4 linked regions of the Homo sapiens genome follow. The protein of the gene in region 4 interacts with the protein of the main gene of each other region in a pairwise test. Each region holds a gene or a part of one and is shown on either strand. Other genes may lie near its edges.

Region 1 (5,848 bases), on a different chromosome or scaffold from region 4:
TACACTTACCCCATGGACAAGATAAACTGTCTTGTTGTGTACAGGCTGTAGTGTGGTCATATTTGAGGTTGTCTGGAAAAAAAACAGCGAGTTGAAGTGACAACAAAATACTCCCTTCAAGAGTGGAAAATCCTGGCCGGGCATGGTGGCTCACGTCTGTAATCCCAGCACTTTGGGAGGCCAAGGTGAGTGGATCACTTGAGGTCAGAAGTTTGAGACCAGCCTGGCCAACATATAGTGAAACCCCGTCTCTACTAAAAAATACAAAAATTAGCTGGACATGGTGGTGCATGCCTGTAGTCCCCACTACTAGGGAAGCTGAGGCAGGAGAATCGCTTGAACCCCGGAGACAAGAAGTTGCAGTGAGCCGAGATCACACTACTGCACTCCAGCCTGGGGGACAGAGTGAAACTCCGTCTCTCAAAAAAAAAAAAAAAAAAAAAAAAAAAAGAGTGGAAAATCCTTTCGTTGCTATTACAACATGTAATTTACTGAGTTACAAACAGCAGGGTCAGGGCTGGGCAGGTGCACACACTTATCCATCCTGAGGAACTGCCAGGACAAGACAAAGGCATATCTACTCCTCGCTTGCTCTGATGCTAGTGGCAGTGATCCAGGTTGTGGCAGGTGGCTTCTGTTTCTATGCACATCAGTAATCTAAAACTCAGTCCCATCGTCCTCTGTGGCCTGTGTTAGAGGTGAGGGGACCAGGTGCTTCCATGAAAAAACTTCTCATCTCCAACCAGCCATGCTCCCAGAGAATTTCACAGTCTCTGTGGTGTCAAATCAAAGGGCGCTCAAAGGCAGTTTAAGCTCTCCATCAGGCGAGTACATAGCTGGACACAAGGGAGCCCAGGACTGGTTTGGCAGTGGCAGCAAAATGCCCTCCTGTGTTTTCTTGTCTCCTACAGCTGCAGTCAGTAAGCAGAAGTTCTATGCAAGATTTCCAAGACATGATGATGTGTCTTCTTGTATAGTCACTGGAAAATTAAATTCCTCTAAGGCTGGCATGTACCTTGTTCCTCTGAGGATATCTGATTTTGCAGGCCAGTAAGAGGTAGACTGTAATACCTGGTGCCCTATCCACATAAAGCTACTTTAGAAATAAGGAGGAGCTTTCAAGGGGAAAACCACCACATCTGAAATGCTGAAGCTGATCAGCCAATGGAGGTGTTGCCCAAACTGTCCCTACTCTCCCCAAGTGGGGCACATTATGGCAGGACAGGCTGACTGAGGTTTTCCTAAGACTCAGACGTCACCTTACTGAAGTCAGAGGTTCTTTGCCTTAAGCAACCGCAAACATGAACTTCAGGGTTGGATCTATGCACCATCTTTCTTTTTATAATTTTCTCCATCTAAAGGTCTTGTACATCTTTTGTTAGATTAATTCTTGGATGCTTTATATTCCTGATGCTATTATAAATGTTATCTTTTAAAATATTACACCTTTGCTGGTTGCTGACAAATATAAATAAAACATTTCTGGCCAGGTGCAGTGGCTCATGCCTGTAATACCAGCACTTTGGGAGGCTGAGGCAGGTGGATCACTTCAGGTCAGGAGTTCGAGACTAGCCTGGCCAACATGGTGAAATCCTGTCTCTACTAAAAATACAAAAATTAGCTGGGTATAGGGGCATGGACCTGTAATCCCAGCTATTCGAGAAGCTGAGGCGTAAGAATTGCTTGAACCCAGACGGCGGAGCTTGCAGTGACCCGAGACTCATGCCACTGCATTCCAGCCTGGGCGACAGAGCAAGACTGTCTCAAAAAAAAAAAAAAAAAAAAAAAAATTGTATCCAGCAAAACTGGTAATTTCCCTTGTGAATTTTAATCAATCATTTTCCAGGTTGACAATCACATAAACTGCAAACAATGCTTTTTTCTTTCTAATTCTTATAGCTTTGGTTTTGCCTTATTTTTATTTTTATTTTTTTGAGACAGAGTCTCATGCTCTGTCCCCCAGGCTGGAGTGCAGTGGAGCGATCTCAGCTCACTGCAACCTCTGCCTCCCGGGTTCACGCCATGAATCTGGGAGTAGCTGGGACTACAGGCCTCAGCCTCCCGAGTAGCTGGGACTACAGGTGCATGCCACCATGCCCGGCTAATTTTTTGTATTTTTAGTAGAGACAGGGTTTCACCGTGTTAGCCAGGATGGTCTTGATCTCCTGACCTCGTGATCCACCCGCCTCAGTCTCCCAAAGTGCTGGTATTACAGGCTTGAGCCACCACGCCTGGCCGGTTTTGCCTTATTTTGTACATGGGATACCCAGTACAACATTATATGGACATGGGGATGGCGGGCTTCTTTGTCTTGTTCTGAGATGAAACAGTGTGCTTTCAGCACTTCACCTTAAGTGTCAGGTTGAGACACTTCCTTTCCACATTTAGGATGCTTTGTTATTTTCTAAATCATCAGGTAACTCTCAAAACCTGAATGTCCTATTAGGACCAAATCTGGCTAACCAGTCCCTCTGGTCAGGGACAGAATCACTGCAGCCATGCCCTAACTTCCTCTACATGGCTCTGCACATCAGCTTGTTGAAATTCACTGCTATGCTCACTTCCAGCCATGGGCTGCCACCTGATTCAGCAACCCCCAGTCTATAGACTCCTTTGCCAGATAAGGCCAGATAAGGTTTTACTCCAGGTGGAAGCCACTCCAGTGAGCGGCACAGTATGAACTAGGTCCACAGCTTTGCTCAGGACCTGTTTAGCCCTCAGTGAGGGAGGGGCCAGCTCTCCTCACTCACCTGAGTAGTCACTCCACAGGCCCTGGCTCTTCTTAGCCCCCTTCCTGTCCAGGACCCAGGGATCTTCCCCTCGCTCCAGCTGGGAGATTATGTCAGGCTTGGATCCTGGAAGTCCTGCTCGTGGGGAGGGAAGTCTTTGTTTACACAACATTTACAGAGCCCCCTCCCCCTGCCCAAGCCACTTGTGGGGACATGAAAATGGACAGGACTGATCTTCTGCTGGAGCTGAGCACCCAGAGAGGTGATGAGAGCAAACCTCCAGGACCAGCCTGTCCCAGGCCCCGTACCCTGAGAAGCCCCCACCCCAGTCCAATACGCAGATACATAGACGAGGCCTGCTAAGGTGGCTTACCCAATGAGACTACATTCCCATAGGTTTCCATCATCACATTTCTGTAGAGACCCCTCTGAGCAGGGCACAGGCGGTCCCATTCATCCTGGGAGAGGAGCACAGCCACATCCTCGAAGGTCAGCTTGGCCTGGAACGACAGGGGCTGCTGCAGGTAAAACCAAATCCTGATGTCTGTGATGGGGAGTGGGTGCATGTGACATGTGACATGAGCAGTTGGCAGTGGGGGGCTCTGTGAGCTGAGGTGGGTGATGGGAAGGGGCCGCGGAGTTCAGGGCATGTGGTGACGCTCTGGCTGCTCTTAGGAGCTCTACGGGGCACGGAAGGAACCACAGGGCTCGGGCTGGGGGCACTGCATAAGCACTGGGGACAGCTTACCTGGGGTCCTGCCGGCACTGGCAGGAGTCTGGCTGCTGCCATCACCTGGTCTCCTGGGGACTCCGAGGATCACGGAAATTGAAGGAGCCTATGGGGCTGAGGAAGAGGAGGGGGCAAGTGAGGGGCATGGCCTTGAGACCGTAACTTCCTAGGGGGCCCTCAGGGGATCCCTGGGCCTCATTCAGAGTCACTGAGGGGCACACTGAGGTCAGGTGCAAGGAGCTGCTACTGTTGCAGCCTTGGTCTGCCTTGCCTCCCCCATGAACTCTGACCCTATGGTTCAGGAGCCTGTCCAGGCCCTGAACACACAGTTCCTGGGCCTGCCCAGCTAGTACTGGGCTCTCTGAACACCAGGTGCAAGGCACTTGCTGCACCCTGGTCCCGGCCCATGGTCCTGCCATACACAAGGATACCAGCTCACCAAGGCTCTGTGTGTTCTATACCTGAGGCCCTCACACAAGTACCAGACTGTCCGCAAGTCATGTGGGGGATACAGGCATCAGGCCAAGCTGCTTCCCCAAACACCCTCCCAATTAAGAAAGCCTTGGCCACCAGGGTGACAATAAGACTCCCCTCACCCCACCCTTAGGCAGCCCTAGTGCCCCAATGTGGCACCAGGTTCAACCAGGTATTTGAAGGGGAGGCATGGAAGTGGTCAGTTCTGGACAAACTGAGTCAACAGTGGCCTAGGGATCTGGTCTGAGCAGCTGAAGGAAGACTTGTCATCAAGTGAGAAGGGGATGCTTGGGGTAGTGGGGCTGGTGCTGGAACGTAACAGGACAAGGTAAGCAAAGGTATCTGACACACACCCAAACAGCTGGGAAAAAGGGGGAGCGGGGCAAGAGCTTTCCTGACACATTTGGTCCTGTACAGGATAGGGTTCGCAGTCTTCTGGAGCATCAAAAAGAAGATACTGTGACAGGGATACAGAAACCAACCAGGTGACCAAAGGTGGTAGATCACTCCAGAAAAACGTGGTATAACAAAGCAACCAATCCCCTCACATGCTTGGCTCAGATGGGCACCACAACAAACAGGGTGCTTTAAGAGTGACAAAATAGGTGTCAGGGCTGGGGGCAGAAGTCAAGGGACATCATAATCTCAGTGTCTATAAAACATCAGATATAGGTGGGCGCGGTGGCTCATACCTGTAATCTCAGCACTTTGGGAGGGTGAGGCAGGCACATCACCGGAGGTCAGGAGTTTGAGACCAGCCTGGCCAACATGGTGAAACCCCGTCTCTACTAAAAATACAAAAATCAGGCCGGGTGCAGTGGCTTATGCCTGTAATCCCAGCACTTTGGGAGGCCGAGGCAGGCGGATCACCCGAGGTTGGGAGTTCGAGACCAGCCATGACCAACATGGGGAAACCCCGTCTCTACTAAAAACACAAAATTAGCCGGGTGTGGTGGTGCACGCCTGTAGTCCCAGCTACTCAGGAGGCTGAGGCAAGAGAATTGCTTGAACTCAGGAGGTGGAGGATGCGATGAGCCGAGATCATGCCATTGCACTCCAGCCTGGGCAACCAAGAGCAAAACTCCATCTCAAAACAAAAACAAAAACAAAAATCAGCTGGGTGTGGTGGCGGGTGCCTGTAATCCCAACTACTCAGGAGGCTAAGGCAGGAGAATCACTTGAACCCAGGATGTGGAGGTTGCAGTGAGCTGAGATCATCTCAGCTGAGACTCTGTCTCAAAACAAAACAAAAAAAACACACATCAGATACATGTATATATTTGCACAGACAACTTTCAGGAAGATACACAATAAACTAACTGCCTGCCTCTGAAGAACAGGACAGGGAAACACAGTTGGAGAGAGACTGACTTTCAACCCTCCCCCGTGCTGCTGTTCTCCAAAAATGCCCATTCCCTCCAAATGTGTGTGTGAGCACACTTCTGTGTTAGCGCAATGCAACTCTAATTAGAATTCCAACAGAAGTCTTTTAAAGGAATGACTACAACTACTTGAGAATTCATAAGAAGAATGGATGCTAGAGAATAGCCAAGAATTTAACTGGAAAGAACAGAGGGTGGGGACTGCCTTGCCAGGAATCAGAGCCAAGGGTGGGTAGGAAGCCGCTGCAATTAAACCAACAAGTTGTTGACAGAGGAACAGATGAAGCCAGACAGGTATGTGGGAAATTGGAAGATAACAAAAATGTTACATTTTAGTTCAGCAGGAAATCAGTGGTTCCTTTAGTAACTTGTGTGTACCCAGATGGGATACATCAATAACCAATTTTTTTGTTTGTTTTTTTTTTTGAGACAGAGTTTCACTCTTGTTGCCCAGGCTGGAATGCAACGGCGAGATCTCGGCTCACCGCAACCTCCACCTCCTGGGTTCAAGTGATTCTCCTGTCTCAGCCTCC
Region 2 (5,848 bases), on a different chromosome or scaffold from region 4:
AAGTTTGGTAGTACTTTTTGGCCGTTTGATATTTAACTCCGTTTCTTTTTTTTTGAGACGGAGTCTTGCTTTGTCGCCCAGTCCGGAGTGCAGTGACGTGATCTCAGCTCACTGCAAGCTCTGCCTCCTGGGTTCACACCATTCTCTTGCCTCAGCCTCCTGAGTAGCTGGGACTACAGGTGCCCGCCACCACGCCTGGCTAATTTTTTTTTTGTATTTTTAGTAGAGACGGGGTTTCACCGTGTTAGCCAGGATGGTCTTGATCTCCTCACCTCATGATCTGCCCGCCTCAGCCTCCCAAAGTGCTGGGATTACAAGCGTGAGCCACCTCGCCTGGCCCTAACTCTGTTTTTTTCTTTTTTTTTTTTTTTTTTTTTGAGACAGAGTCTCACTCTGTTGCCCAGGCTAGAGTGCAGTGGCACGATCTTGGCTCACTGCAACCTCCACCTCCCGGGTTCAAGTGATTCTCCTGCCTCAGCCTCCCGAGTAGCTGGGACTACAGTCACATGCCACCACACCCAGCTAATTTTTTGTATTTTTAGTAGAGACAGGGTTTCACCATGTTCACCATGTTAGCCAGGATGGTCTTGATCTACTGACCTCATGATCCGCCTGCCTAGGCCTCCCAAAGTGCTGGGATTACAGGCATGAGCCACCGCGCCCGGCCCTTAAACTCCCTGTTTCTAAACAACATGTTTTTGTTGCTGTTTCTTATTTTATCTCTCGTCAGTTTTAGACGTTGTTCAGACGTATATGGCACAGGCAGCTGTACTTCTCCAGTGGCCCCCACACCCTCACATGCCCTCACCTGGCTCCCCCATCTCCTGGCTGTAGGTTGTTAGAATTTGTGGTGAGACCAGTGATGGGACTTCCATTGGGCAGCTGTGTAGGTACTTTAACACTGAGCCATGCCACCTGCTGTGCTTATATGACCTCTTTGGAATAACTTTGTGTATTTCTTAGAGTTACTCATGGCCCTGTTTGTTGGCTTTGTTTTCTGCATTCGACCCTTGTCTCCCCAGCTGGGCTTTTCCTTGTGGTCTGTCAGGCTGTCTACCCTGACAGTTCTGTGTGTGCTTTCTTTCCGCAGAGCCCTCTGTCCTGGAGGCCACAGTCCTGATTGTTTCCATGCCAACTGCACACTTGTTGCCCTGAGGTTTTCCTGGGATCTCCTTTCACCCCTCTTCAGTGTGGGACCCTCTTCCCTGAATCTTAAATGTCTTCTTTTTGCCCTTGCTCTCCTGTTTTGATAGAGCCTTTCCTTTGGTAGGTTCCTGAAAAAAAGGCACATAGGAAGGTAGATTTTCTTGGCCAGGCACGGTGGCTCATGCCTGTAATCCCAGCACTTTGGGAGGCTGAGGTGGGCAGATCACCTGAGGTCAGGAGTTCGAGACCAGCCTGATCGACATGGAGAAACCCCGTCTCTACTAAAAATACAAAATTAGCCGGGTGTGGTGGCGCACGCCTATAATCCCAGCTAATTGGGAGGCTGAGGCAGGAGAATCACTTGAACCTGGAGGCGGAGGTTGCACCTGGAGATCGCACCATTGCACTCCACCCTGGGCAACAAGAGCGAAACTCCATCTCAAAAAAAAAAAAAAAAAAGAAAAAAAGGAAGGTAGATTTTCTTGTAACATTGCATGTCTGAAAATGTGTTTGTTCTAGCCTCATACTCAGCTGATAGTTTGGTTGGGTATAGAATCCTAGGTTGACAATTGTTTTCACTCAGGAAGTTGGCGACATTGCTGCCTTGTCTCCTAGCTTCCACGTTGCTGCAGAAAATCTGGTGCCGTTTGGATTCTTGGTCCTTTATATGTGTGATCTATTTTTTTTTTGTTATTCCTATTCAGAAGCTTTTGAGATGTTTCCTTTATCTCTGAAGTTTTAAATTTCATGATAATGTGTTTTGGTGTGGCAATTTTTTTTTTTTTTTTTTTTGAGATGGAGTTTCACTCTTGTTGCCCAGGCTGGCGTGCGATGGCGCGATCTTGGCTCAACACAACCTCTGCCTCCCAGGTTCAAGTGATTCTCCTGCCTCAGCCTCCCGAGTAGCTGGGATTACAGGCATGCACCATCATGCCCAGCTAATTTTGTATTTTTAATAGAGATGGGGTTTCTCCATGTTGATCAGGTTGGTCTCAAACTCTCAACCTCAGGTGATCTGCCCGCCTTGGCCTCCCAAAGTGCTGGTATTACAGGTGTGAGCCACTGTGCCTGGCCTGAGATTTTTTATTCATTATGCTGGGCACAGGTTTGTTTTTTTTGTTTTGAGATGGAGTTTCGCTCTTGTTGTCCAGGCTGGAGTGCAATGGCACGATCTCAGCTCACCGCAACCTCCGCCTCCCGGGTTCAAGCAATTCTCCTGCCTCAGCCTCCCGAGTAGCTGGGATTACAGGCATGCGCCACCACACCCTGCTAATTTTTTGTATTTTAAGTAGAGACGGGGTTTCTCCATGTTGGTCAGGCTGGTCTTGAACTCCTGACCTCAGGTTCATCCACCCGCCTTGGCCTCCCAAAGTGCTGGGATTACAGACGTGAGTACCACACCCGGCCTGGGCACATGTTTTGCAAGACTGAGATAGCTGTGTTTTTTTCCTTAGGTACAGCATCTTGACTAGGGAATACAGAGAGTTATTTTATTGTGAAATGTAACATATATTCAGGAAATGAATGTGCAACAATTATAGATTGCTTAACAAATATTACCAGGTGAACCTCTCTGTTGTCTGCTACCGAGATGGAGAAATCAAGCCCTTTGGCACCTGAAGGCCTTTGTGACCCTCCTAGTCATGACACCCCTCCCCAACCAAGGGGTGACCATCCTGAGTTTGGTGACAGTCACCTTCCACCTTTAACAGTAGTTTTCTTTTTTTTTTCTGAGACGGAGTCTCGCTTTACCATCAGGCTGGAGTGCAGTGGCACGGTCTCGGCTCACTGCAACCTCTGCCTCCTGGGTGCAAGTGATTCTCCTGCCTCAGCCTCCTGAGTAGCTGGGACCATAGGCACGTAACACCATGCCCAGCTAATTGTTGTATTTTTAGAAGAGACGGGGTTTCACCACATTGGCCAGGATGGTTTCCATCTCTTAACCTCGTGATCCTCCTGCCTTGGCCTCCCAAAGTGCTGGGATCACAGGCGTGAGCCGCCGTGCATGGCCTTCAACAGTTTTCTTTTGTTTTTTTTTTTTGAGATGGAGTCTCACTCTTTCGCCCAGGCCGGACTGCAGTGGCGCTATCTTGGCTTTCTTCAAGCCCCGCCTCCTGGGTTCACGCCATTCTCCTGCCTCAGCCTCCCGAGTAGCTGGGACTATAGGCACCCGCCACCACGCCCGGCTAATTTTTTGTATTTTTAGTAGAGACGGGGTTTCATCAAGTTAGCCAGGATGGTCTCGATCTCCTGACCTCGTGATCTGCCCGCCTCGGCCTCCAAAAGTGCTGGGATTACAGGCGTGAGCCACCACGCCTGGCCTAGTTTTCTTACCCCTCTAAACTGAAGGGTTAAGAGTTGTGTCTGTTTCTGCTCTTCATATTAATGGAATCATCCAGTATGTTTTCTTTTGTTTCTTGCTCTTTTTGCTCCGTGTCACCTTCTCTGGGAATCATCCGTGTTGCTGTGTGTGGCTGTAGTTTGCTCTTTTTGTTGCTGAGTAGCACTCTGTTGTCTGAAGGGACCACAGCTTATTTCTCCATTTTACTGAGGATTGGACATTGGGGTTGTTTTCTGTTTTCTGCTCTTATGAATGTTTCCCGTGTGGATTTCTTTAGGTGACATAAGGTTTGTTTAGGGTATTTAAGAGTAGTGTGTTCTTTCTTGACTGCTCTACCGGAAAAAAAGAAAAGGGAAAAAAGAGTAGTATGCCAGGTCATAGGAAAGGTGGCTACAAGTTATTCATACAGGATGTTTGAGAGTCGAAGAAGGCACTGTGACCACTTGCTGTGTAACATTCAGAGCTGGGACTGTCCTGGGCACGTTGCCGTAAAGTCTGCACATTCACACGATCCCAGACTGTTTGTGCAGAACGGTTCTGCCCACTTGCGCTCCCACCAGCACAGCGTGAGTTCATGTCAGCCTACATCTTTGCCACAACTTGGCGTTGGCTGACTTTAGTTGTTGCCAGTCTGGTGAGCACATCATGGTGTCTTGTGCAGGGCTAGCTTTTCCCCCATTTCTCCATCAGATAAGAAAGCAGAGATTGACATCCTGGCTGCAGAGTACATCTCCACGGTGAAGACGCTGTCTCCAGACCAGCGCGTGGAGCGCCTGCAGAAGATCCAGAACGCCTACAGCAAGTGCAAGGAATACAGTGACGACAAAGTGCAGCTGGCCATGCAGACCTACGAGATGGTGAGGGCGGGGCGGGGGCCATGGCTCTTCCTCTGACCTCTACTCCTGCCTCTCATGCAACAAAATGTAAAAACTGCCCGGAAATGGGCATAGCCAAGTGGAAGGCTGGCTTTGGTAGCTGACGCTGCTGGAGGAAGTGCAGACGGAATACACTTCATGTAGGACCATCCCTGTTTTTTTTTTTTTTTTTTCTGGGCCCTTTTTGTTTGTGTATCTGCTCGGAGGAACCATTTGGGTTTTTTTTGAGACAGTCTCACTTTGTCGTCCACGGTGGAGTACAGTGGTGTGATTTCAGCTCAGTGCAACCTCCGCCTCCTAGGCTCAAGTGATTCTTGTGCCTTAGCCTCCCTAGTAGCTGTGATTACAGGCATGCAGCACCACACCCAGCTAATTTTTATATTTTTAGAAGAGACGGGGTTTCACCCTGTTGGCCATGCTGGTCTCGAACTCCTGACTTCAAGTGATCCACTCGCCTCAGCCTCCCAAAATACTGAGATTACAGGCATGAGCCACCGTGCCCGACCTCCAGGTGGCCATATTTTATTTTATTTATTTATTTTATTTATTTATTTATTTTTGAGACAGAGTCTTGCTCTGTCGCCCAGGCTGGAGTGCAGTGGTGTGATCACGGCTCACTGCAACCTCCACCTCCTGGGTTTAAGCGATTCTCCTGCCTCAGTCTCCCGAGTAGCTGAGATTACAGGCATGCAGTAGCCATACTTTATTATTATTATTATTTTTGAGATGGACTTTTGCTCTTGTTGCCCAGGCTGGAGTGCAATGGTGCTATCTCGGCTCACTGCAACCTGTGCCTCGCAGGTTCAAGCAATTCTCCTGCCTCAGCCTCCTGAGTAGCTAGGATTACAGTCACCCACCACGAAGCCTGGCTAATTTTTGTAGTTTTATTTTTTTATTTTTGTATTATTTATTTAGTTTTTGAGACAGGGCCTCACTGTGTCGCCCAGACTAGGGTGCAGTGGCATGGCTGCAGTTCAGTGCAACCTCCACTTCCCAGGCTCAAGCGATTCTCCTGCCTCAGCCTCCTAAGTAGCTGGGATTACAGGTGTGCACCACTACCAACAGGCTAATTTTTGTTTTTGGTTTTTGGTTTTTTTTTTTGAGACAGAGCTTCGCTCTTGTTGCTCAGGCTGGAGTGCAATGCCACGATCTTGGCTCACTGCAACCTCTGCCTCCTGGGTTCAAGCGATTCTCCGGCTTCAGCCTCCTGAGTAGCTGGGATTACAGGCATGCGCCACCAAGCCCGGCTAATTTTGTATTTTTGGTAGAGATGGGGTTGCTCCATGTTGGTCAGGCTGGTCCTGAACTCCCGACCTCAGGTGATTGACCTGCCTCAGCCTCCCAAAGTGCTGGGATTACAGGTATGAGCCACCGTGCCTGGCCTGTATTTTTAATAGAGATGGGGTTTTGCCATGTTGGCCAGGCTGGTCTTGAATTCCTGACCTCAAATGATCCACCTGCCTCGGTCTCCCAGAGTGCTGGGACT
Region 3 (5,848 bases), on a different chromosome or scaffold from region 4:
AGGGAAGAGAGGCCGAAGTAGAAAATAAGCCTCAAACTGGGCACAGTGGCTCACACCTGTAATCCCAGCACCTTCGGAGGTCAAAGTGAGAGGATCACTTGAGCCTAGGAGTTTGAGACCAGCCTGTGCAACATAGTGAGACCCAATCTCTACAAAAATTTAAAAATTAGCTGGAAGTAGTGGTGCGTACCTGTAGTCGCAGGTACTTGGGAGGCTGAAATGGGAAGATAGAGGGGAGGATCACTTGAGCCTGGGAGTTGGAGAACAACCTGGACAACATAGAGAGACCCTGTCTTTACCCCCCAAAAAAACCAAAAACCAAAAAACGTTAACTGAGCGTGGTGGCATGCATCTGTGGCCCCAGCTACTTGGCTACTTGGGAGGCGGAGGCAGGAGGATCACTTGAGCCTGGAAAGTCAAGGCTGCAGTACACCATGATGGTGCCACTGAACCAACCTGGGCAACATAGTCAATAGAGTGAGACCAAAAAATCAAAAAAATAGACCAGATCTCTGTTGCCCAAGCTGGTTGTTAACTCCTAGCCTCAAGCAATCCTCCCTTCTTAGCCTCCGAAACTGTTGAGATTATGGGTGTGAGCCGCTGTGCCTGGCCAAGGTCCTCTGTTTTTTTTTTTAAGTTATTTATTTGTTTAATTTTTTTTTTTTATGAGATGGAGTCTAACTCACTCTGTTGCCCGGGCTAGAGTGCAGTGGCACAATCTCAGCTTATTGCAACCTCTGCCTCCTGGGTTCAAGAAATCTCCTGCCTCAGCCTCCGGAGTAGCTGGGATTAGAGACGTGAGCCACCAATTTTGTATTTTTAGTATTTTAGTATTTTTGTATTTTGATTTTTGTATTTTTAGTAGAGATGGCGTTTCACCATATTGCCCAGGCTAGTCTTGAACTCTTGAGCTCAATTTATCCACCTGCCTCCAGCCTCCCAAAGTGCTGGGATTACAGGCGTGAGCCACCACATCCAGCTGGTCTTCTGTTTTAGTAACAACTCCCTGCTGTTCTTCCTTTAGACTCCCGAGGCTTGCCGACAGGCCCGAAGCTACCTTGAGTTTTCTGAGGACTCAGTGCAAGTGCCCAGGAACCTGGTTGGTGAGTTGGTGGTGTGTATATACAGTTAGAGGTCAGAATCAAGATTCTCTACAGTGATTCTGAGCTTTTATCCAGGATTGGCACCTCCCTGTGGACTCCCAGTTTCACAAGGACAGAGAAACAGTCTGTAATGGGAGTGATAAAAATGAAAGAATAAATTTCTAGGGATTGTAACATTTTGTCCTGTAAAAACACATCAGAAACCTAGAAGCAGGAGAATGAAGTAAATGGAATCCATATAAAGAAAATGAGGCTGGAAGACGGTGTATCAGCTTTATTCTTATTTCCTTAAAAAAAATAAAAGGCTGAATTCCTCATTTACCTATTCCAGGCAAAGTGATTGGAAAGAACGGGAAAGTGATCCAGGAGATTGTGGATAAATCTGGTGTGGTGAGGGTTCGAGTGGAAGGTGATAATGACAAGAAGAACCCCAGGGAGGAGGTATGGGTACGGGGCAAGTGGGCATAGAGATTGGTTTCCAGAAGTAAATGGGATTGTCCTCTGAGGGCTGGGATTGTTCTTTGAGAGGGTGGAGTACGGAAAGTTGTTTAACACTAGTAGATTTAGAGCCCAGAATGATCCCACTGGGCAGGCTCCCCTAGGAGACTGGGCGGCGTTAATCCTTCCATTTCATTTTCCTTTCTGATCCATCGTTTCTGCTCTCTGTTCTCTAGGGAATGGTTCCCTTCATTTTTGTTGGCACCCGAGAGAACATCAGCAATGCCCAGGCTTTGCTGGAGTATCACCTCTCCTACCTGCAGGTACCCAGGCCGGGAGAGAAAAATGCTGGGTGTGAAAAGGGAACTAAGACTGCTGTGGGGGTCAGCTCAGGGATTTTGGTTCTCTGTTTGTCTCTCCGTGTAGAACAGAAAACATCTGTGGAAATTTGGGGCTATAGGGTTGGGTCCCAGAATTTTCCTTGTTTAGCCAGTGTCTTCCTTCTCCCTGCATTCCTGAGAGGTTAGATATAGAGGGACAGTCAGGGTGCAGAAGCATGAAGCAAGGCACTGATCTTATTTCTCCTTCCCCTTCTTCCATCTTTTACCCAACCAGGAGGTAGAGCAGCTTCGCTTGGAGAGGCTACAAATTGATGAGCAGCTTCGGCAGATTGGGCTGGGCTTTCGCCCTCCTGGGAGTGGGCGGGGCAGCGGTGGCAGCGACAAGGCTGGATATAGCACTGATGAGAGCTCCTCCTCCTCCCTCCATGCGACTCGAACCTATGGGGGCAGCTATGGGGGCCGTGGCCGTGGCCGGAGGACAGGCGGTCCTGCCTATGGTGAGACAGTTATGGGAACAGGAGGCAAGGAGTGGCAGGGCTTGTGGGTAGAGGCAGAGGTCTGGATGGAAGTTTGGGGAAATCTGGAATGGAGATGATGAAAAAGTGATTGATTGGCTGGGAGGCTTGTGAGTGAGAAGGAGAATTCTTCCAGTTTGGGGGATGTGATGGATCCTGAGGTGGGATGAATGGCCGTGAATAAATCCCATTGTGTTCTTCAGGCCCCAGCTCAGATGTGTCTACAGCTTCAGAGACTGAGTCAGAGAAGAGAGAGGAGCCCAACCGAGCTGGGCCTGGCGACAGGGATCCCCCAACCCGAGGGGAAGAAAGCCGGAGGCGGCCGACTGGGGGCCGGGGTAGGGGACCCCCACCTGCCCCCCGGCCCACTTCGAGATACAATTCTTCATCTATTAGCTCAGGTACCAGACAGCTGGGTTCATGAATATGGGCCAAAAGGAAAGATGATGGGCACCTGACTGCCAACTCCTCCTCTTCTTCCTCTGACCAGTGCTGAAGGATCCAGACAGTAATCCCTACAGCCTATTGGACACGTCTGAACCAGAGCCCCCGGTTGATTCAGAACCTGGGGAACCCCCCCCAGCAAGTGCCAGGCGCCGCCGCTCCCGCCGCCGCCGCACTGATGAAGACAGGACCGTCATGGATGGAGGCCTGGAATCAGATGGGCCCAACATGACAGAGAATGGCCTGGGTGAGGGTGTGCCTGGGGTCTGGAAAGTTAGAGATGGGTAGGAATCGAGGGTGGGAGGTTGGATGTGTGACTCTGGTTTTTTCCTACCCTACAGAAGATGAATCAAGACCTCAACGTCGTAATCGCAGCCGCCGCCGCCGTAACCGTGGTAATCGGACTGATGGCTCTATCAGTGGAGACCGCCAGCCAGGTCAGCCAACTCTGGACACCAGAATCCTTCCTCAGAGCTGAGAGAATGGGATGCTCACCCCTGTGAAAATCAGGGGTTCGGGTTCAGTGGGTGTCTTAGGCTGGCTACCAGAATTCCATCTGAAAGTCTTAATCTCCTGCCTTCCCCAGTGACTGTGGCTGACTATATCTCACGAGCAGAGTCTCAGAGCCGCCAGAGGCCACCCCTGGAACGCACTAAACCCTCAGAAGACTCTCTTTCAGGACAGAAGGTAGGCAGGCAAGATGTGCTTTACCCCATCCCTTTTTTGTTGTTACTCTGGGGCAGGGGGCACAAAAAATTTCACAAATCTCCTACTGAATTGCAGAGGCAGCTGTGTCTGATGGAGTTTAGACCAGTGTAAACTTTGAATAGGATAGAGAAGAAAGTGTGGTTCACATTTTCTGGATCCCAAGTAAGAGAGACTGGATCATGAGATCAGGGAACCAACCTCTGGATCACCAAATGCCAGGAGGGCTTGGATGGTAGGGAATGTCTCCCACCTGAATTTCTACTCACCGCTTCTTGCTTTTCTGTTTTCTTTCCCACTTTCCCCTCAGGGTGACTCTGTCAGCAAGCTTCCTAAGGGCCCCTCGGAGAATGGGGAGCTCTCCGCCCCCTTGGAGTTGGGTAGTATGGTGAATGGGGTTTCATAAAACCTCCAACCTGCACCCCTCCCTTCTCCATCTCGCTTGCTGCCCAACACCATGGCCCTCACAGGCCCAACTGACCTGCGCTGGAGCTGCTCTTATCTAGGGGGGAGGGGGGTGGCACAGCAGCTTGGGTACCCCCCAACCTCCAGGAGCTAGTGGAGGGGTGTGTAACAGGGTCATACCCCCTCCCTCTTGTCCACCCTACCCCCAGGGTAAGGGGAGCCTCTCTCCTTCCCCATCAGACTGGATGTGCCTTTATCCTCTAATGCCCCAATCTCTCTCTGAACACCCCCATTCTCCACCTGTTGGTGGGGGGTGCTCCTCGACCCACCCAGATTTGACCGTTCAGGGGGCCTCCCCTGCTATCCCTCCTCCCATCCTGTACCCCCCATTTCTGGGGCCTCATCACTGTGGAAGACGGGGATAGTAAGAGATAAGTGGGTGGGAGGCACGGGGAAGGTTTTGGAGTAGAACCAGGGGTGTGTATGAAGGGGGGTGACAAGGTCCCCCTGGGGAGGGGACCAACCTTGTCTGGTGGATGAGAAGGCGTATTTATTTTTCACTGTACAGTATTTAAAAAGAGAATAAAAAAATCCAAATGGCTGTCTGGCTCCTGTGCCTTCTTTGTCCCCAGTTTGGTCCATTTGTTTCTCTAGGACTGACCTGCCCTGGCCCCTGGCTCTTGTTTTCTGTTCCTCCACATCTGACTTCTCTTCATTGTCTCTTGTCCCAAAGATGGTCTTACTTCTGGGAATTCCTGACATTCCTAAACTCCCCAGGCCCAGGTTCTCCCTCCTGGTTCAGAGGAGGGGGGCTTGTGCCTTGTTGCTTCTCCCCTCCCCCAAGTTTGCTGGTAGAGGGAGTTGGGCCACTCCTATACCCTGAGTCACAGCACAGGCTAGGCAGGGCTGCTCAGAGCTGGAGCTGTTCCTGTAGAAGCTGAGAGCCAAGGCAGGCTGCTTAATCCGATTACCTGAGGCCTGGGGCTTGGGCTGGGCCGTTGGGCAGAGTGGGGAGCAGGGTTCCCTCACAGCAGCCTCTGGAGCCCGGGGTCCGGCCTTCTTGGTGGTGTTCTGTTCTGGCTCCAGGCTTTTTCTCCGGCATGCGCATCACAGACCTCTTAACTTGGGGAGTTGTCCTGGGTTTCCTGGCTCCCCCCTCATGACTTGGACGACTGAAGCTAAAACTTGCCATAATTCAATAGCAGTGGAGAAATATAGGTTTAGGGACTGGAGTTGGGAGGGCTTAAGTTTTCTCACTTGGGAAAGGGGTTGAATCACGGCCCAAGCACCTGCTGGAATGACTCAGGAAACAAAAATGGTCTCCCTCCTCGGCCTTTCTTGCCCCAGGGGCAGTTCTGGGATTTGAGGAGCAACAGGCACCAGGAAAGGGGTTGGGGTGGTGGTCCGGGATGCTCCCAAGCTCCTCTCAGCACAACTCGGGCCCTGAGGGCACTTCATCCCCCTGTGTTTGATCCCATTGTGGAAAGAATTGGCTTTAAATTGCCTGTGCTTCAGGGAGGGGAGGCAATCAGCAACGGGCTGGAAGGCCTGACATCAGGTCTTGGGTGGGGGGGGCGGGGGGCGTGGCACCCTGAGGGTGTTGGGGGCTGGGACAAACAGGACACCTGGGTTTACCTACGGGCTGAGGATGTTGGCGCCCTTAAGGAGGTGCAGTCTTATGGGAGGGACAGGGGCGGAGTCAGTCTTTAAAAGCTGTTCCCAGGTCTGGCCCGCCTGCCACAAACGCTGAGCCCAGGTGGGAGAGGTCTGGCCTATCCGCGCCTGGCAGCTGTCGGAACTCCGGAGACCACAAAGGGGTTTATGGTTTACCCCCTCCACGGAAGGTCGGTCTGATCGCAGCTGCGGGTCGGGGAGAGGGACCGGGGGTCCCCCAGTC
Region 4 (5,848 bases):
AGGCTGTGGTGGGAGGCTGACTTGAGCCCAGGAGGTTGAGGTTGCAATGAGCTGAGATCATGTCACTGCACTCCAGCCTGGGCAACAGAGCCAGACCTGGAAAAAAAAAAAAAAAAAAAAAAAAAGAAAAGAAAAAGATAAAAGAATAAAGAAAACATGAAAACTTCCTCAGATTAAAAAACTCAGGGAGTTTGTCACTTTTAGACATGCCCTAACAAGAAATGCTAACAGGAGATCTTCAAGTTAACTGAAAAGATACTAAACCAACAGTATGAAAGCATATGAAAGTATACATCTCACTGCTAAAAGCAAACATGAAAACAAACATGGAATATTGCAATACTGAAATCTGTGGCACGTAAATCTCATTGAACACTAGTATATAAATTAAAAGACAAAAATAGTATGAGTAACTACAACAACCACAGAAATTTGTTAATAGAAACAATATAGAAAGAAGTAAAATCTGAAATCAATTACATACATTGGTGAGGAAGAGGGGGGAGAAGTGTAGAGATTCTGAATATGAATGAAGTTGTTACTAGCTTTAAAAAGCCTGCTATGACTACATAATATTTGATGCAAACCCCATAGTAACCAAAATAAAAAGTATAGTAAATAAACAAAAAAAAGAAAAAAATCAAAGCATTCTACTACAATCATCAAATCACAAAGACAACAAACAAGAGAAAAACAGGAGAAACAGAAAGCAAATAGAAAACAATGAATAAAATGGAAACAATTAAGTACTTAATTATTAAAAATTATTACTTTAAATTTTTAATAATTAAGGGCTCTCAGTAGACATGGAATGGCTGAAATGGATAATAAAAACAACACTCAACTATACGCTATCTACAAGAGACTCTAACATTTAAGGACACACGTAGGCTAAAAGTGAAGGGATTGAGAAAGATATTCCATGCAAACTATAACCAAAAGAGAGCAGGGTGGCTATCTATATCAGACAAAATAGACTTTAAGTCGACAACTGTCAAAAGAGACAAAGAAGGCATTATATAATAGTAAAAGGGTCAATTCAATAGAAAGATACAACAACTAAAAATACATATGCACCCAACATCAAAGCACCTTAAAATATACAGTGAACATTGACAGATTTGAAGGAAGAAATAGATATCGATACAATATAGAAGGAGACTTTGATACATCACTCTCTATAATGTACAGGTCATCCAGACAGAATGCCAACAGCAAATATTGATAGAATTGGAGGAAGAAATAGATATCAATACAATACAGAAGGAGACTTTGATACGTCACTGTCTATAATGTACTGGTCATCCGGACAGAATACCAACAAGTAAATTGCAAACTATACAACACTATAGACCAAAGACCTAACATGCATATACAGAACATGAGACCCAACCATAGCAAAATAATCATTCTTCTCAAAAGGACATGAAACATTCTCTATAACTGATCACAGCCTAGGTCACAAAACAAGTCTTAACAAATTTAAGAAGACTAAAAACATTCTAAACATTTTGTCTGATCACGAGGGAATGAAACTAGAAATCAATAATAGAAAGAAAATGGAAAAATTCACAAATACAGGGGAATTAAATAACATACTATTAAATAATACTGGGTCAAAGAATAAATCAAAACAGAAATTATAAAATATCTCAAGACAAACAATAATAAAAACACAGTATACCCAAACATATAGGATGCAGTAAAAGCAGAATAAGAGAAGTGTTTATAGCAATAAATTCATTAAGAAGAAGAAAGAGGCAGGACACAGTGGCTCACGCCTATAATCCTAGCACTTTTGGGGGCTGAGGCAGGCGGGTCACTAGGTCAAGAGATTGAGACCATCCTGGCTAACATGGTGAAACCCCATCTCTACAAAAAATACAAAAATTAGCTGAGCATGGTGGTGCGTGGCTCTAGTCCCACCTACTTGGGACTCCCACCTACTCGGGAGGCTGAGGCAGGAGAATCACTTGAACCCGGGAGGCGGAGGTTGCAGTAAGCCAAGATCATCACGCCACTGCACTCCAGCCTGGTGACAGAGCAAGACTCTGTCTCAAAGAAAAAAAAAAAAAGGTCTCAATAAAACAACCTAACTTTACACCTCAAGGAACTAGAAAAAGAACAAACTAAATCCAAAATTAGCAGAAGGAAGAAAATAATAAAGATTAGATTAGAAATAAATGAAATAGAAAATTGAAAAACAATTTTAAAAATTGACAAAACTAAAAGTTCCTCTTTTGAAAAGACAAACTAAATCAACAAATCCTTGGCTAGACTTTAAAAATAGAAGACTCAAACAAAATCAGAAATGAAAGAGGACACAATTGATCCCACAGATATAAAAAGTATCATAAGGGACTATTATGAACAATTATATGCCATCAAATTGGACAATCTAAAAAAAAATGGGTAAATTCCTAGAAAAATATAACTTACCAAGACTGAATCAAGAAGAAATAGAATGCTTGAATAGACAAATAACAAAAAAGGAGATTGATGGAATAATCAAAAAATTCCCAACAAAGAAAAGCCAAGAGCCAGATACATTCTAGCAAACATTTAAAGAAAAATTAATACAAAACCTTATTAAACATATCTAAAAAAAAAAAAAAAAGAAGAGGGAACACTTCCAAAGTCATTCTGAGGCCTGCATCACCCTGATACCAAAGCCAGACAAATACACTACAAGAAAACTACAGTCTAATACATTTGATGAATATAGACGTAAAAATCCTCAATGAAATGTTAGCAAACCAAACACAACAGCACATTAAAAGAATCATATACCATGACCAAGTAGGATTTTTCATTGTGATGCAAGGATGGTTCAACATATGACAACCAACCAATGTAATATACTGCATTAATAGAATGAAGGATAAAACTCACATGGGCATCTGCACAGATGCAGAAAAAGCACTTGACAAAATTCGATACTCTTTTGTGATAAAAACTCCCAATAAACTAGGTATGGAAGAACCTTATAGCAAATTAGGTAAAGGAAAAACAAAATAAAGTCCATTTATGAGAAGCCCACAGCTAAGATACTTAAAGATAAAAAACTGAAAGCTTTCCCCATAAGATGAGGAACAAGGCAAGGTTGCCTACTTTAGCCTCTCCTATTCAGCGTAGTATTTTAAGTCCTAGCCAGAATAACTAGGTAAGAAAAATAAATTAAAAACATCCAAATAAAAAGAGAAGAGGTACAATATCTGTTTGCAGATGACATGATCTTAGATGTAGAAAACCTTAGGGACCCCAACAAAAATGTGAGAATAAACAAATTTGCCTTTAAAAAAGAAGGAAATCCTGCCATTTGCAACAACATGGATGAACCTGAAGGACATTATGCTAAGTGAAATAAGCTAAACACAAAAAGACAAATACTGTATTATCTCAATGTATGTGAAATCTAAAATAGTCAAATACATGCAAGCAGAGAATAGAATGGTGGTTGTAAGGGAACATGGGGAGAACAAAATGGGAAGCTGTTGTTCAAAGGGTACAAAGTTTCAGTTAGGCAAAATAAATAAGATCTGCAGGTACAACCCAGTGTCTGTGATTAGCAATATTGTATTCTTAAAATTTTGCTAAGAAGTTAGATCTAATGTTAAGTGCTCTTATCACAAAACGTGAAAAAAAGATGAGTAGAAGGAAACTTTTCAAGGTGATGGCATTGATTTCTTGTAGTAATAATGGTTGGATGGTTTCACAATATCTACTTATCTCCAAACAGAAACTGTATACATTAAATGTCTATAGCTTTCTGTATGTCAATCATACCGCAATAAACAGGTTAAAAAATGAAGCAGCACCAGATCCCTGTACACACACCTCTAAAAATAGTCCCTTTGTATATAAAGCACCCCAAATTTTCTCCTTCTGAGTGTGTTATCTACTTAATTAAGGGCCTGGACTACAAAATCCAAGTTTTCACTTTTCACCCAAAGTTTTCCATTCTCACACACAGAATTTTCTCGTTCAGTTAGCAGATGCAAGAAGAGAATTTCAGATATTAGCTTTAAATACTACATTCTTGTCTATACCTGGTATTACTAGCTCTACCTAATTCATTTTCTTTCTTACCATGAAATTATAGAAACAAAAAGGTTACTGCAAAACACTTATAAACATATTGTCAGCATGAAATAATTATAATTATCCTATAATAAATTGTACCTTTTGAACAATTTTGGTCACTTTTTGATCTTCGTGTATTAATAAGTTAATACATGTAAATCATAACCAGAAGGGAAAATCAAAACATTCCACTTACCAAGTAATGATGAAAAAGAGAATGTGTGTGATTTAGTTAATTTAAAATATTATAGAAAGCAACAAATAACAGAAATGGTATCTGGGATAAAGTTCCTGGACCTGGATAAGGATGTTTGGTGATATCTCAAGCTGTTCAACACCTTTGCACATGCCATTTCTTCAAGCTTGAAGAGATACAGAGCAACTCCTTCCCTCTCCCATTCTCCATCTGGCTAATACCCCTCGGCATCCTGCTTAAATGTCACCACCTCAAATAAGTCTTAGATCCCAAACTAATTAATCCCCCTCATTAATTTTCTCTAATAGACCCAGTTCTTTTCCTTCTTGGTACTTATCATAATAAAGAACCAAAATCTGTGCCAAGGGTCCAAAATAGCACTCTACCTGAAAAGCAACACTTAATCCTTGTCATTTCTCAGCTCTATTTCAGAATGAGCTGGGTTACTACCTGGGGTCCCATAACGACCTATATCCCAATGGCCTAGAAATAGAAGGAATACACCGATTCCCCCTCTTGATGCTGATTCTTCACTTTAATAAGCCACCACCATTGTCAGTCAAGATGTTTTGCACTGTCATCGGTCCCAAACTCCTGCTGGTTAGCCAGCTGTCTACTTCCAAGAAGAAAAGGTGAACACAGAAAAAAAGGCAAGAAATTCAAAATATCTATGCTTTTTACAGAAAGAGTAAATGGTACAATTATTTTGGAAAACTTACTGGTGATACCTACTAAAAGCTGACATACATGGGGCCTATGAAACAGGAATATGACTCTGAAGAATGTACACAACAGAAAAACACATACGTGAACCAAAAGATTTGAACGAACTGAGACTTTAAACAAAATGATTCATTTTTTAAAAACTGCCCCAAAAGTAATAGCATGGAATTTATTTCTAAATGACTAATTTTCTTGCATGGAGTGGGACTTTCATTAGATTATCAAAGGAGATTTTTCCCAAAGAAGAGTCATAAATAGGTATATAAACGATTAAGAACCTTTGCTGGAAGGAGGTAAGTTTCTGAACTATAAAAGTCTAGTCAGCCAGTAACGTGAAACTCAATAACTTACATAAAAACATCTACCACAACTGTCCATGGACACTTCATAGAAGAAAAGTAATACATAACAATACCTTGAGTAATGAACCCTTTGAGAATGAAGCTCCTTTAAAATGAAGTTATCACATTAAAATGAAGTCATTATATTAAAATGAAAACAGAACAATTCATAAATCAGGTGAAGCTGGGTTAGTGTGATCTTTTCCTCCAATTCGCATTACCCAGCTGTCCAGGATACAAATCATCCCTTTACACACCGTTTCTCTATCTTTAAATAAGGAAAGGTAAGAAGGTCACCGATTTACAAAATCCTAAATTTAGTAAGCTTCCTACTTTAAGCCCCTCGCCACTCATTTCCACAGCCATTTCCCCAGGGTAGAGCAACTGCTCCCTCTTTATGAACCTACCTTTCTGTTCCTAGTCTCCTTTATCAACATGGTAGGCAACAGCTTATTGAATATACTTTATAGACTTGTGCATGCACATTTTAGTCACTATTTTTCAG

Evidence for each region.
Region 1: the proteins of CEP44 (region 4) and ZNF250 interact in a two-hybrid assay, tested with the Homo sapiens proteins (one large-scale study listed by BioGRID and IntAct).
Region 2: the proteins of CEP44 (region 4) and ING5 interact in binary tests that used the Homo sapiens proteins (3 or more experiments, as listed by UniProt).
Region 3: the proteins of CEP44 (region 4) and FXR2 interact in binary tests that used the Homo sapiens proteins (3 or more experiments, as listed by UniProt).

The regions. Positions count from the first base shown.
Region 1 is NC_000008.11:144,886,831-144,892,678, forward strand, and holds part of ZNF250 (zinc finger protein 250), read right to left. Parts: intron 3,574-5,848; 5' UTR 3,520-3,573; coding exon 3,478-3,519; intron 3,245-3,477; coding exon of another isoform or gene 3,230-3,244; coding exon 3,103-3,229; intron 2,865-3,102; coding exon 2,751-2,864; intron 73-2,750; coding exon 10-72; intron 1-9. UniProt on the Homo sapiens protein: May be involved in transcriptional regulation.
Region 2 is NC_000002.12:241,705,039-241,710,886, forward strand, and holds part of ING5 (inhibitor of growth protein 5), read left to right. Parts: intron 1-4,177; coding exon 4,178-4,344; intron 4,345-5,848. UniProt on the Homo sapiens protein: Component of the HBO1 complex, which specifically mediates acetylation of histone H3 at 'Lys-14' (H3K14ac) and, to a lower extent, acetylation of histone H4. Component of the MOZ/MORF complex which has a histone H3 acetyltransferase activity.
Region 3 is NC_000017.11:7,589,934-7,595,781, reverse strand, and holds the end of FXR2 (RNA-binding protein FXR2), read left to right. Parts: intron 1-1,024; coding exon 1,025-1,103; intron 1,104-1,434; coding exon 1,435-1,544; intron 1,545-1,777; coding exon 1,778-1,864; intron 1,865-2,156; coding exon 2,157-2,379; intron 2,380-2,600; coding exon 2,601-2,798; intron 2,799-2,887; coding exon 2,888-3,088; intron 3,089-3,182; coding exon 3,183-3,278; intron 3,279-3,427; coding exon 3,428-3,528; intron 3,529-3,624; coding exon of another isoform or gene 3,625-3,660; exon of another isoform or gene 3,661-3,716; intron 3,717-3,856; coding exon 3,857-3,952; 3' UTR 3,953-4,552; downstream 4,553-5,848. UniProt on the Homo sapiens protein: mRNA-binding protein that acts as a regulator of mRNAs translation and/or stability, and which is required for adult hippocampal neurogenesis. Specifically binds to AU-rich elements (AREs) in the 3'-UTR of target mRNAs.
Region 4 is NC_000004.12:174,286,065-174,291,912, reverse strand, and holds part of CEP44 (centrosomal protein of 44 kDa), read right to left. Parts: intron 1-5,848. UniProt on the Homo sapiens protein: Centriole-enriched microtubule-binding protein involved in centriole biogenesis. In collaboration with CEP295 and POC1B, is required for the centriole-to-centrosome conversion by ensuring the formation of bona fide centriole wall.